3 linked regions of the Homo sapiens genome follow. The protein of the gene in region 1 interacts with the protein of each later gene in a pairwise test. Each region holds a gene or a part of one and is shown on either strand. Other genes may lie near its edges. The genes, in order: EXOC1, SPTAN1 and COLEC12.

Region 1 (3,651 bases):
TCGCTGGAGCCCAGGAGTTTAATTAAGACCAGCCTGGGCAACATAGTAAGAACTTTATATATAAATGTATTGTTGCTCTTTGAAATGGTATTTTGCTCTTTCAAGCCTCACAGACTTTACTTATGTCAATCATTCTTTAGATTTTTACCTCATACTTTTCTTTAAAACTGGTCTGAATTTATTATTAATATATCATTCCTTTATTTTTCAAGGAATCTCCTCTGATCTTCTAGTCTGACTTAGATGCTTCTATTAGGATTCTGTGCTTTCCTCGGTCATAGCACTTGTTGCAAAGTATTACACCTCTTTTAGTATCAGCTACTAGGCACCTGAAAGCTATACTTGCAATGAGTGAATGAAGAATGAGTGAAAGGGGTAATATTTCTAATAAAAGTGTGCGTTTTACTCAACAGTGACAACTGAACGCCCTGTGCAGGTTAAGGTGGTCAAAGTCAAGAAATCCGATAAGGGAGATTTCTACAAAAGGCAGATTGCATGGGCCCTTCGAGATCTTGCTGTGGTAGATGCCAAAGATGCTATCAAAGTAGGTTTTTCTCAGTTCTTTGACCTGTGTTCAGAAAGCATCTTTCATTTTATAACATGGTATTACATATTCTAAAATGATCTAAAAACAAATTAATATATATGTTTGTTTTCTTATTTTTTTGCTTTTTTTAAGCTATAATTATGTTTGTGCACAAGCTACATAAACTAGAGAAAAATTACTTTGACTGTATACATTTCTGTGTTTAGATTAAGTATAATTTGTATAAAATCTATACATAGTATGGATTTTAAAGTGGTGTGTCATGAGTTTTTTTTGCTTGTTTGTTTGTTTGTTTAATCAAAATCATATAACCAAAGTGATCCTTCCTTAGTCTTCATGAGTAAACATAGAATCACCAGCTGGGGCAGCCAGACTGGCCTTTTGAGGCCACCATGGCTTTGATGTTTGTGGATCAAAAAAAAAAAAAAAGAAATGATAGTGGGTTACATACCTTATTTTAAGGAATGTAGATAATAAGATCTATGAAGATATAAACTTACACGTTATAGATAAACCACACTCAAACTCCAAGAAAGGTGATTAATGTGATAATCACATTAAAGGACCACCTATGTTCCTGACAGTTCAAAGCTTTCACAGCAATACCCTTTTTTCAAAGCAATCAAGTTGGCCTCCTTTGATTAAATTAGGTGCTTCCTCCCCCTGGCCCTCTCTCACTCTGCCCTTCATCTTTCTCTGCAGCCCTAACACACCTCCATAGCACAAGAGAATACTTTGTACCACAACTACTTGTATGTCGATGGGATGAACATAATAGCAAGGCTTATACTAGTGAAACTACAGGTGCTCTTTGACTCTACAAATCTCATACATTTACTAAAAAGGCACAAAGTAAAAACAACAAAAAACAAAAAAACTGCCTGTGTAAAGCAATCTGTTAAAATAAAATTCTGATTTTACCCTTACTTTGGTACAAACCTCCAAGGATCAAAAATCTGGACAAAATGACAGGTAGTTGAGTTGGGTGCAAAAAAAATGAAGTAAGAACAATTTGAGGAGAGCCCTCTATATCTGTATAATTCAGATTTCTTCCAAATGTAAATCATGCCTTTTCTTTAAGTATTCTAGGCTTACTGGCCCTTTGTTTTATCCCTAAGGAGCACCCAATGCTTAGAAAAATGTGAAATGTAGAAACAGGATTTGACAGAAATTTAGAAAGCTAGAGATTGGAAAGAAAATTATAATGGGATGTTTAAAAATAATTTAGGCCAGGCGTGGTGGCTCACGCCTGTAATCCTAACACTTTGGGAGGCCGAGGCTGGTGGATTGCCTGAGCTCAGGAGTTCAAGACCAGCCTGGGTAACACAGTGAAACCCTGTCTCTACTAAAATACAAAAAATTAGCTGGGCGTGGCGGCACACGCCTGTAGTCCCAGCTTCTTGGGAGGCTGAGGCAAGAGAATTGCTTGAACCTGAGAGGCAGAGGTTGCAGTGAGCCGAGATTGCGCCACTGCACTCCAGCCTGGGCAACAGAGTGAGACTCTGTCTCCACAAAAAAAAACAAAAAAAAACTTCTGTAAGTAATTTTTATTACCATGGGGAGGGATCAAGAGTGGAAACTTTTCTGGTTGTTTTCTGTTAAGACAAAACACTTTAAGGGTTTTTAAAACTGCACCTTTATTAAAAAACATTTTTCCCTTCAGTAGTTTTGCACTTCGTAACCCTGTTGACTTGCATAATTCAGTAACATTGCTGAATGCTTATTTGAATGCATTCTCACAGCTGATGCCTCTTGCAGACTTGCTTAATGGATTTTTTTTTTTTGCATTTTATGTAGGCACCTTGGTGTGTGTATGCTATATATGGATATAAAACATAAAATTTTTATACATAACTTAACATTAGCCATTTAGTATCACACATTGATTTGTGAGTGTTGCCACTGGAGCACTCAGCTTCTTTTATGGTATTATGGGAAATATTCCCAGGGAAGAGATTATTTCCCATCAAGTTTCATATTGGTTGCCAATACTCTTGTTGTGTTTTTTTGTAAGTAATAATGCAATTACCTTTTCATTGTATATGCAGGTTTTAAATTTTTGACGCTTCAATTCTGTTTATTAAGCTATAAATTGAACTAATTAGTAGTTCCATGCTGCTGTAATATGATTGTTGTACCAAAGGTCAAGTCCTGATTCCTGAGATACTCCAGTTCTTCACAGTGAAAGTCTGATATAACTTCCCTTACTTTAATGTATTTACATTTCCCCCAAATAACACTTTAAATGAATCAAATATATTATTATTCTTTTACCCTGTAGAACATTAAGAATATTTGAGCCTATTTTTTAATTCCTTGGATGTGAAGTATACATCCATAAGTTTGTTTGTTTGTTTGTCTGCTTGTTTGTTTTGAGACAGGGTCTCACTCTGTCACCCAGGCTGGAGTGCGGTGGCACAATCTTGGCTCACTGCAGCCTCCACCTTCCGGGCTCAAGCCATCCTCCCACCTTAGCCTCCCGAGTAGCTGGGACTACACGTACATGCCACTACACCCGGCTAATTTTTGTGTTTTTTGTAGAGAAGTGTTTTGCCATGTTGCCCAGGCCAGTCTCAAATTCCTGGGTTCAAGCAATCTACCCACCTCGGCCTCCCAAAGTGCTAGGATTACAGGCGTGAGCTACCAAGCCCAGCCTGTTTTTTTATATAATAGTCAAGTAGTTCTATTCATTCAAGGGAGAAATATTAGCCTGATGTGGATTATTGCTATAATGTGGCTTAAGAGACTTGAAGAAACTATAGTGTAATTCTCTCAGATTGGTTGAGCTTCTTTATCACATGAAAGAACGTTAGGCCAGGAACAGGGCTCATGCCTGTAATTCCAGCACTTTGGGAGGCCGAAGCAGGAGGATCAACTGGATAACATGGGGAGATCTTGTCTCTACAAGAACATTTTAAAAATTAGGCATGCTGGTATGTGTCCGTGTCCCCAGCTACTCAGGAGGCTGAGGTTGGGAGGATTGCCTGAGCCCAGGAGGTGGAGGCTGCAGTGAACCATGATTGCACCACTGCATTGTAGCCTTGGCAACAAAGTGAGACCCTGTCTCAAAAAAATAAAGAACTTTGAGACCTAGCAGCACTTTT
Region 2 (3,651 bases), on another chromosome or scaffold:
GTGCATCAGTAAAGCCACAGTGAGGTAAGAAGAGAAATAAGGAGAAAAACCTTCCAGACAGATCATCCCCAACTTCATACTGATAGACACGAATGACCCGACGATATGCTATGCTATTCAAAGAAAAGAAACCAAATGAATACACCAAAGGGAGGGGAGGCAAGAGCACACTGCAACAGACACACACAAAGCCCAAGCTGGCAGGGCGCAGGCAAGGGCAACCTGGTGCCCGGCGGGTACCTGGAGGCAGCAGGCCCAGTGGTTCACCCCAGGCAGCTCACACTAGGAATGGGCAAGATGGGCAGGGCTTGGGAGGAGCCATAAGGTGAGGGGAGCGTGGCACCTCACGGAGACAAGAGCAAGACCAGCAGACACAGGCATGGGGCAGGGAGGGGAGTCAGGTGGCCAGGGTGTCCTACGGGCACAGGCCGGAAACTGCGATCCCTACGTCCCCAGCTGCTCTGCCATCAGAATGTGTGGCCCGGCTGGATGGGTCTATTTCTCCCCTGGCCGCCTATACAGGCTTGATGTGCCTGGGTGCAGAGCCTCAGGAGTGCAGGCCAAGCCACTCCAGTCCCAGCAGCCCTGGCTTTCACAGCAGGCTTGGCAGATTACAAAGGTGACCCGGCCAGGCAGAGGCCCCAGGCCAAGCAGAGAAGTCCCTGCCGGGACTGGGCGGGACAGCCCAGCCCTGCTCCTCCCTGGGGCTCCTCCCACGTCCTGTCTATCACATAACGGGTGCATTTTTGCCTTCTATTAGGGCGGACAGTCTTGTTACCCTCCCTGACCCCAGGAAAGTAAAGTGGCAGCCTCAGCTACTTAGGGGGTGTCAGTGCCCAGCCCTTCTCAGCTGTGGACTTACTGTACCCTGCCTGAGCCCCCAGCACTGCCATCTGCTTCATGCCCACTGACCACTGTTGGACTCGCTGGGGAAGCAGAGGTGAGAGCCCAACAGAGCCCGGTGGCTGGACAGGCACGGGGGTTCTTAGGGCCTCTGGACTCCAGCTCTGGCCTTCGTGCTTCATCACCTTCCCTACCCAAAGTGAGCCCTTGGAATCGCCCAGTGAGGCAAGGACGGCTCCCCCTGGCTTGAAGGCTCTATCGGGGACCAGGGACCATGGGCTATGGGGCAAGGCACACACTCCTCATCAGGTGACGAGAAGGGTGGGAGGGGAAGTGCAGCCCGCCCTGGGCAGGAAGGCCCATCCCGGGATCCTCCACAAGCCAGGCCACGAGGGGCAAGCGCACGAGACCCCCACATGACAAGCCCAGAGAAGGAAGAAAACAATATTAACCCATCGAGGAGGTATGTCCTGTGGAGAGCAGATCCAAGCAGCCGGGAGACAAGGTGGTGTCCGGACAACAGCAGCAATCGGGGGGACAGAGAGAAGACACAAGAAAGAAAGGAAAACAAAAGCAAGAACATCAGTACCCAACGCACAGACCCTGCATCGTCTGTCACCAAGTCATGGCTGGGGCTGACCACGCGCCCTGCATGGTCCCACTCAATCCGGGATCTCTAACAACTTGATGTCTGGGACATGCAGCACTGAGAGGCTGCTCCACCTATGCCCCCACTCCCGGCTCCAGAGCCCGACCAGGCGTTGCCAGCCCAGCTTTATTCCCAGGCTGCCTCTGGTTTTACACAAAGCACCACCACCTCCTTGGGGCTGGAAGCTCCCCAGGGCTTAAGTACAGCAGGGACATGCTGCTGCTCCCCGGCCCCAGCGGGCTGGCACCTGGTCTCTTGGATCCACTGGTGGAAGGCGTTGGCGTGCTGGGCAAACTCCTGGCGCAGCTTGTCGTTCTCCTCCTGCCGCCGCTGTTCCTTCTGCAGCTCCAGCTCCCTCTCCTGAGGGCCAAAGGGGGGCAGATGCTGTGCGCTGCTGTGGCAGTGACACCAGCCCCTCCTTCACAGATGGGCTCAGGGTGGTGGTGGCCTCCCCACAAGGAACCTCCCCAAAGATGAGAGGAGGAGGCTGGGAGACATGAGGCCGGCTCAGAGCACTTGGTAGTTCTTTCTCTGTTCCCACCCCCCAGGGGCTTCAAGGAAGAGGCGGACCTGGAGGGAAGCGACTGGTCAGTCAAGCAGGGAGTTGCTGGACTGTCAGAAATGGAAACTTCTGGCTGGGTACAGTGGCTCACACCTGTAATCCCAGCACTTTGGGAGGCCTGGGCAGGAGGACTGCTTGAGGCCAGGAGTTGAAGACCAGCCTGGGCAACATAGCAACACCCTGTCTACAAAAATTAAAATAATTAGCCAGGCGTGGTGGCACGTGCTTGTAGTCCCAGTTATTCAAGAGGCTCAGGCAAGAGGATCACCTGAGCCTGGGAGGTTGAGGCTACAGGGAGCCATGGTAGCACCACTGCACTGAAGCCTGGGTGACAGAGACCCTGCCTCAAGAACACAAAAAGAAATGAAACTTCTGATGAAACCATGCTCCTCCATCCTGCTCGTCTTGTCGTGACTCAGTTAAGTGTGGGCTCTGAGCAGGGCCCAGAGAGGGCTCTGGGAGGCCGAGCAGCTCCTGAGGGCAGCGGGAGGTGTACCTTGATGATTTTCTGTAGGTTCCTCCAGGTCTCCTCCAGGGCCTCCATGGTAAACCAGGTGTAGGGGTTGGAGGCTACGCGGAAGCTCTTGATCTGGCGGTCCAGCTCGGCCAGCTGGTTGAAGTCAGCCTGGGCAGAGCTGAGGGAGGAGCGGAAGGCGTCGTGGGCCTCGCGCAAAGCTTTGATTTCTTCCAAGGAGTTGCAGCGCACGGGGTCTGTTAAGTCCTCCTCTGCATTTTCAAACCAGCTGTTGAAGGCAGAAGCCTTTTTGGCGAAGGTCAGGAAGAGGTCCTCCACCTGGAAGCAGAAGAGACTGAGTTGGCGGAGTCGCCAGGGCTGGACGTGCCGACGCAGTGCAGGAGGTGGGGTGCGGGGTGGTTCCTGGGAATCAGAGGCGCACACAGCCTGCTGGGAGCTTAGCTCCCCTCTGCTCCTGTCTCCTGCTCCCCCTTCAAGTCTTCACCAGCCTTTTTTCCCCTTCCTACCCTTTGCCCTTGTCTCTAGTCTGTCCTGCGTGCTTCTGAATGGCGATCTCACAGGGCCCTCTCATTTGCCCTGGTTTTAATTGATGCCAGCCACACCCATGTTTGAAAGCTCTGCACTGAGCTCACAGCTTCCTCAAGGGGGAGTGGCAGAGCTGGGCAGACAGAAGGTGGGCGTCCTTCCTTGAGCTGTGGGCCAGCTAAGCTTCACGTGGCCCCATCCTCACCTTGCGGAAGTGACTCTGAGCCTCCAGAAGCTTCTTCTTGCGGGCGGCTGAGTTGGCCAGAAGCTGGCTCCACCTCTTCATGAGGGAGGCGTGCCGGGCCTCGATGGCCTTGGACTGAACGTGTTTGGCGGCGAGAAGCTGATCTTTGAGGGCAGTGATGTTGGCAATGCCTTCCTGCTGGAAGGCCTGCAGCCCAGCGTCAAAAGTTTCCTGAACAAGGAGTGACAAGCCAATTTGTGGTGACTCCACAGGACTGGAACTTGCTCTTCCTAGGCTCAGATGGCACCAGCATGTCCCCCAGATGCCCAAGCCAAACTGTCCACCTGGACACTGCTGAGACTCAGTCACACATGCCCCCTTTCCTGCTCTCCTTCAGACCGCAGATCACTGCG
Region 3 (3,651 bases), on another chromosome or scaffold:
CAAGCAATTCTCCTGCCTCAGCCTCCTAAGTAGCTGAGGTTACAGGCGTGTACCACCACAACCGGCTAATTTTTGTATTTTTAGTAGAGATGGGGTTTCACCATGTTGGCCAGGCTGGTCTTGAACTCCTGAGCTCAAATGATCCACCCACCCCAGCCTCCCAAAGTGTTGGAATTACGGGCGTGAGCCACCATGCCCGGTCTGAAGTCTTTTTTTTTAAGCTATTGATACTAAGAAGGACAGTCAGACTTGATCCCAAGCTGCTAGAAGCTGTATCTCACATAAATCACTTTTGGAGAAACATCCTCTTATTTAACATTTTAGAAACGTGTACTTGAATTCATAACTGTAGAGAATTACTGCCTTCTGAAAATGAATAAGAACTGAAGCTTTTATTTAGTGTGGCTGTATTAGTCCGTTCCCATGCTGCTGATAAAGACATACCCGAGACTGGGAAGAACAAGAGGTTTAACTGGAATTACAGTTCCACATGGCTGGGGAGGCCTCAGAATCATGGTGGGAGGCAAAAGGCACTTCTTACACGGCAGCAGCAAGAGAAAGTGAGAAAGATGAAAAAGTGGAAACCCATCAGATCTCGTGAGACTTATTCACTACCATGAGAACAGTATGGGGGAAACCGCCCCCATGATTCAAATTATCTCCCACTGGGTCCTTCCCACAACACATGTAAATTCTGGGAGATATAATTCAAGATGAGATTTGGGCGAGAATACAGCCAAACTGTATCATTCCACCCCTGGCCCCTGCCAAATCTCATGTCCTCACGTTTCAAAACAAATCATGCCTTCCCAACAGTCCCACAAAGTTTTAACTCATTTCAGCATTAACCCTAAAGTCTGCAGTCCAAAGTCCCATCTGAGACAAGGCAAGTCCCTTCCGCCTATGAGCCTGTAAAATCAAAAGCAAGCTAGTTACTTCCTAGATACAATGAGGGTTACAGGTATTGGGTAAATATAGCCTTTCCAAATGGGAGAAATTGGCCAAAACAGAGGGGTTACAGGCCCCATGCAAGTTCAAAGTCAGCAGGGCAGTCAAATTTTAAAGCTCCACAATTATCTCCTTTGACTCCAGGTCGCACATCCCGGTCATGCTGACGCAAGAGGTGGGTTCCCATGGTCTTGGGCAGCTCCACCCCTGTGGCTTTGCAGGGTACAGCCTCTCTCCCTGCTGCTTTCATGGCTGGTGTTGAGCATCTGTGGCTTTTCCAGGTGAACGGTGCAAACTGTCAGTGGATCTACCCTTCTGGGGTCTGGAGGACGGTGGCCCTCTTCTCACAGCTCCACTAGGCAGTGCCCCAGTAGGGACTCTGTGTGGGGGCTCCGACACCACATTTCCCTTCCACACTGCCCTAGCAGAGGTTCTTCATGCACATCCCACCCGTGCAGCAAACCTCTCCCTGGGTATCCAAGAGTTCCCATACATCCTCTGAAATCCAGGCGGAGGTTCCCAAACCTCAATTATTGATTTCTGTGCACTCACAGGCTCAACAACACATGAAAGCTGCCAAGGCTTGAGACTTGCACCCTCTGAAGCCACGGCCCCAGCTCCACATTGGCCCCTTTCAGCCATGGCTGGAGTGGCTGGGAAGCAGGGCACCAAGTCCCTAGGCTGCACACAGCATGGGGACCCTGGGCCTGGCCCACGAAACCATTTTCTCCTGGGCCTCCAGGCCAGTGATGGAAAGGGCTGCCAGGAAGGCTCTGACATGCCCTGAAGACATTTTCCCCATTGTCTTGGGGGTTAACATTTGGGACGGCAAGAGAAAATTAGAAAGATGCAAAAGTGGAAACCCCTGATAAGACCATCAGATCTTGTGAGACTTATTCACTACCACCAGAACAGTATAGGGGAAACCACCCCCATTATTCAAATTATCTCCCACCAAGTCCCTCCCACAACACATGGGAATTAGGGGAGTATAATTCAAGGTGAGATTTGGGTGGGGACACAGCCAAACCCTATCAGTGGCATTACTTTCCCTATCATATGCAATCAAGAAAATACTACCAAAAAATACTTCTTGGCAAATCATTGTTTGGAAACACCACTCAGGCATCTACTTGAGAACTGACAAACTACAGAATCAGTTGTCACTAACAAAAAGCAGATTTTCAGGGCCTTGTGGTGGAACTCATAACAGAAAGTGGCAGACACTCTTGACTTTGCAACCTTTCTATGCCGATTTTGTGTATAGAATTGAGCTGGGTTTTCCTTGCCAATGGAATCCTCTTCTAGGTAAATGAGTCCCACCTGCCAAGAATGTTAGGGAAGCTGATGAGTGACAACATTTTGTAAATTATCACAGTGTGCCTTGCCTTCATCTATGGAAATTAATATAGGAAATAGCAGATTAGGGACTTCTAAAATGCATGAAAATTTTTAAATTAGTTCCAAATGATTTCTGAAACATCCAAGGCATTACAGAATCATAAGAATAGTTAAGAACATACAATTCTCAACTAAGTAAATTGTACCCCTGGGTTTTGTGACAAGTAAGTTATTTTTCCAAAAAGATGGCTTTTCTTTCCTATATTTGATTTCAGTTACACTGTTTTCGTTCAATCTGTTTCCTTTGTTCCATAATGAAATGATCTCTTGTTTTGAAACTGAAAAATAAAATATGAGCAGATATGTATACTAATGCATCATTTTCCAAATCTTAGTTGTAGAGAAAATGGACAATGTCACAGGTGGCATGGAAACATCTCGCCAAACCTATGATGACAAGCTCACAGCAGTGGAAAGTGACCTGAAAAAATTAGGTAATCTGTGACAAGACTAAACCATGAAATCCCCTGACTCTACATAAATGACCACAGCTTCTTAGAATGATGTTGCTATAAACTCCCCATTCACCCGGAAGGACATTCAATTTTTGTGTTGCATGTTGAGTCTCCCCTCATGATTTAATTCAAATGCTTAAATTTTAAAGTTAAGGGTCAGTTTTGGAATTAAGTCCTGCCAAGAAAACTATTATGTGCCAAATAATATCTGAAGATCAATCCTGACTGAAAAAAAACACAAATACCCTTTATTAAAAACTGTCACATAAATAGGAATTTACTGAGCATTTTTGAAATACTTTAAACTACATAGAATTGTAGAAATTAAGTTATAAAGTGAAAGATCCTAGCATATTCTATTCCTTGATTTTTGCTTTCATTAAAAAAAAATTTGGGAAATTTAAAAGGTTAGTTTCTTCTTGACAGCCTGCCCACTGCCCTAAAATCTAGTAAATTCCCCCTCCCTCTTTGAGAAAAATGTTCAGCCAAGTTTGTCATTCCTAGTTCTGAGCTTCTTTTCCGATTCCCCAGGACCCAGTTTTAATAGATATGTACATTTTACTAATGCAGAGCTGTCCGCTTATACTGCCAATTTTGCATCTAAAATACAGTGCATACCGATTAAGTGTGTTCGGGATCTTTGGCCTTGCCTGAACACTTCTCCATACCACCAATATAAGTCACAGATATTTCTTATTCCAGGTGACCAAACTGGGAAGAAAGCTATCAGCACCAACTCAGAACTCTCCACCTTCAGATCAGACATTCTAGATCTCCGTCAGCAACTTCGTGAGATTACAGAAAAAACCAGCAAGAACAAGGATACGCTGGAGAAGTTACAGGCGAG

The links.
Region 2: the proteins of EXOC1 (region 1) and SPTAN1 interact in a two-hybrid assay, tested with the Homo sapiens proteins (2 studies listed by BioGRID and IntAct).
Region 3: the proteins of EXOC1 (region 1) and COLEC12 interact in a two-hybrid assay, tested with the Homo sapiens proteins (2 studies listed by BioGRID and IntAct).

The regions. Positions count from the first base shown.
Region 1 is NC_000004.12:55,859,998-55,863,648, forward strand, and holds part of EXOC1 (exocyst complex component 1), read left to right. Parts: intron 1-413; coding exon 414-544; intron 545-3,651.
Region 2 is NC_000009.12:128,625,587-128,629,237, reverse strand, and holds part of SPTAN1 (spectrin alpha chain, non-erythrocytic 1), read right to left. Parts: intron 3,470-3,651; coding exon 3,260-3,469; intron 2,848-3,259; coding exon 2,551-2,847; intron 2,235-2,550; coding exon of another isoform or gene 2,148-2,234; intron 1,853-2,147; coding exon 1,740-1,852; intron 1,314-1,739; coding exon 1,296-1,313; intron 114-1,295; coding exon of another isoform or gene 51-113; intron 1-50. UniProt on the Homo sapiens protein: Fodrin, which seems to be involved in secretion, interacts with calmodulin in a calcium-dependent manner and is thus candidate for the calcium-dependent movement of the cytoskeleton at the membrane.
Region 3 is NC_000018.10:347,197-350,847, reverse strand, and holds part of COLEC12 (collectin-12), read left to right. Parts: intron 1-2,684; coding exon 2,685-2,783; intron 2,784-3,506; coding exon 3,507-3,651. UniProt on the Homo sapiens protein: Scavenger receptor that displays several functions associated with host defense. Promotes binding and phagocytosis of Gram-positive, Gram-negative bacteria and yeast.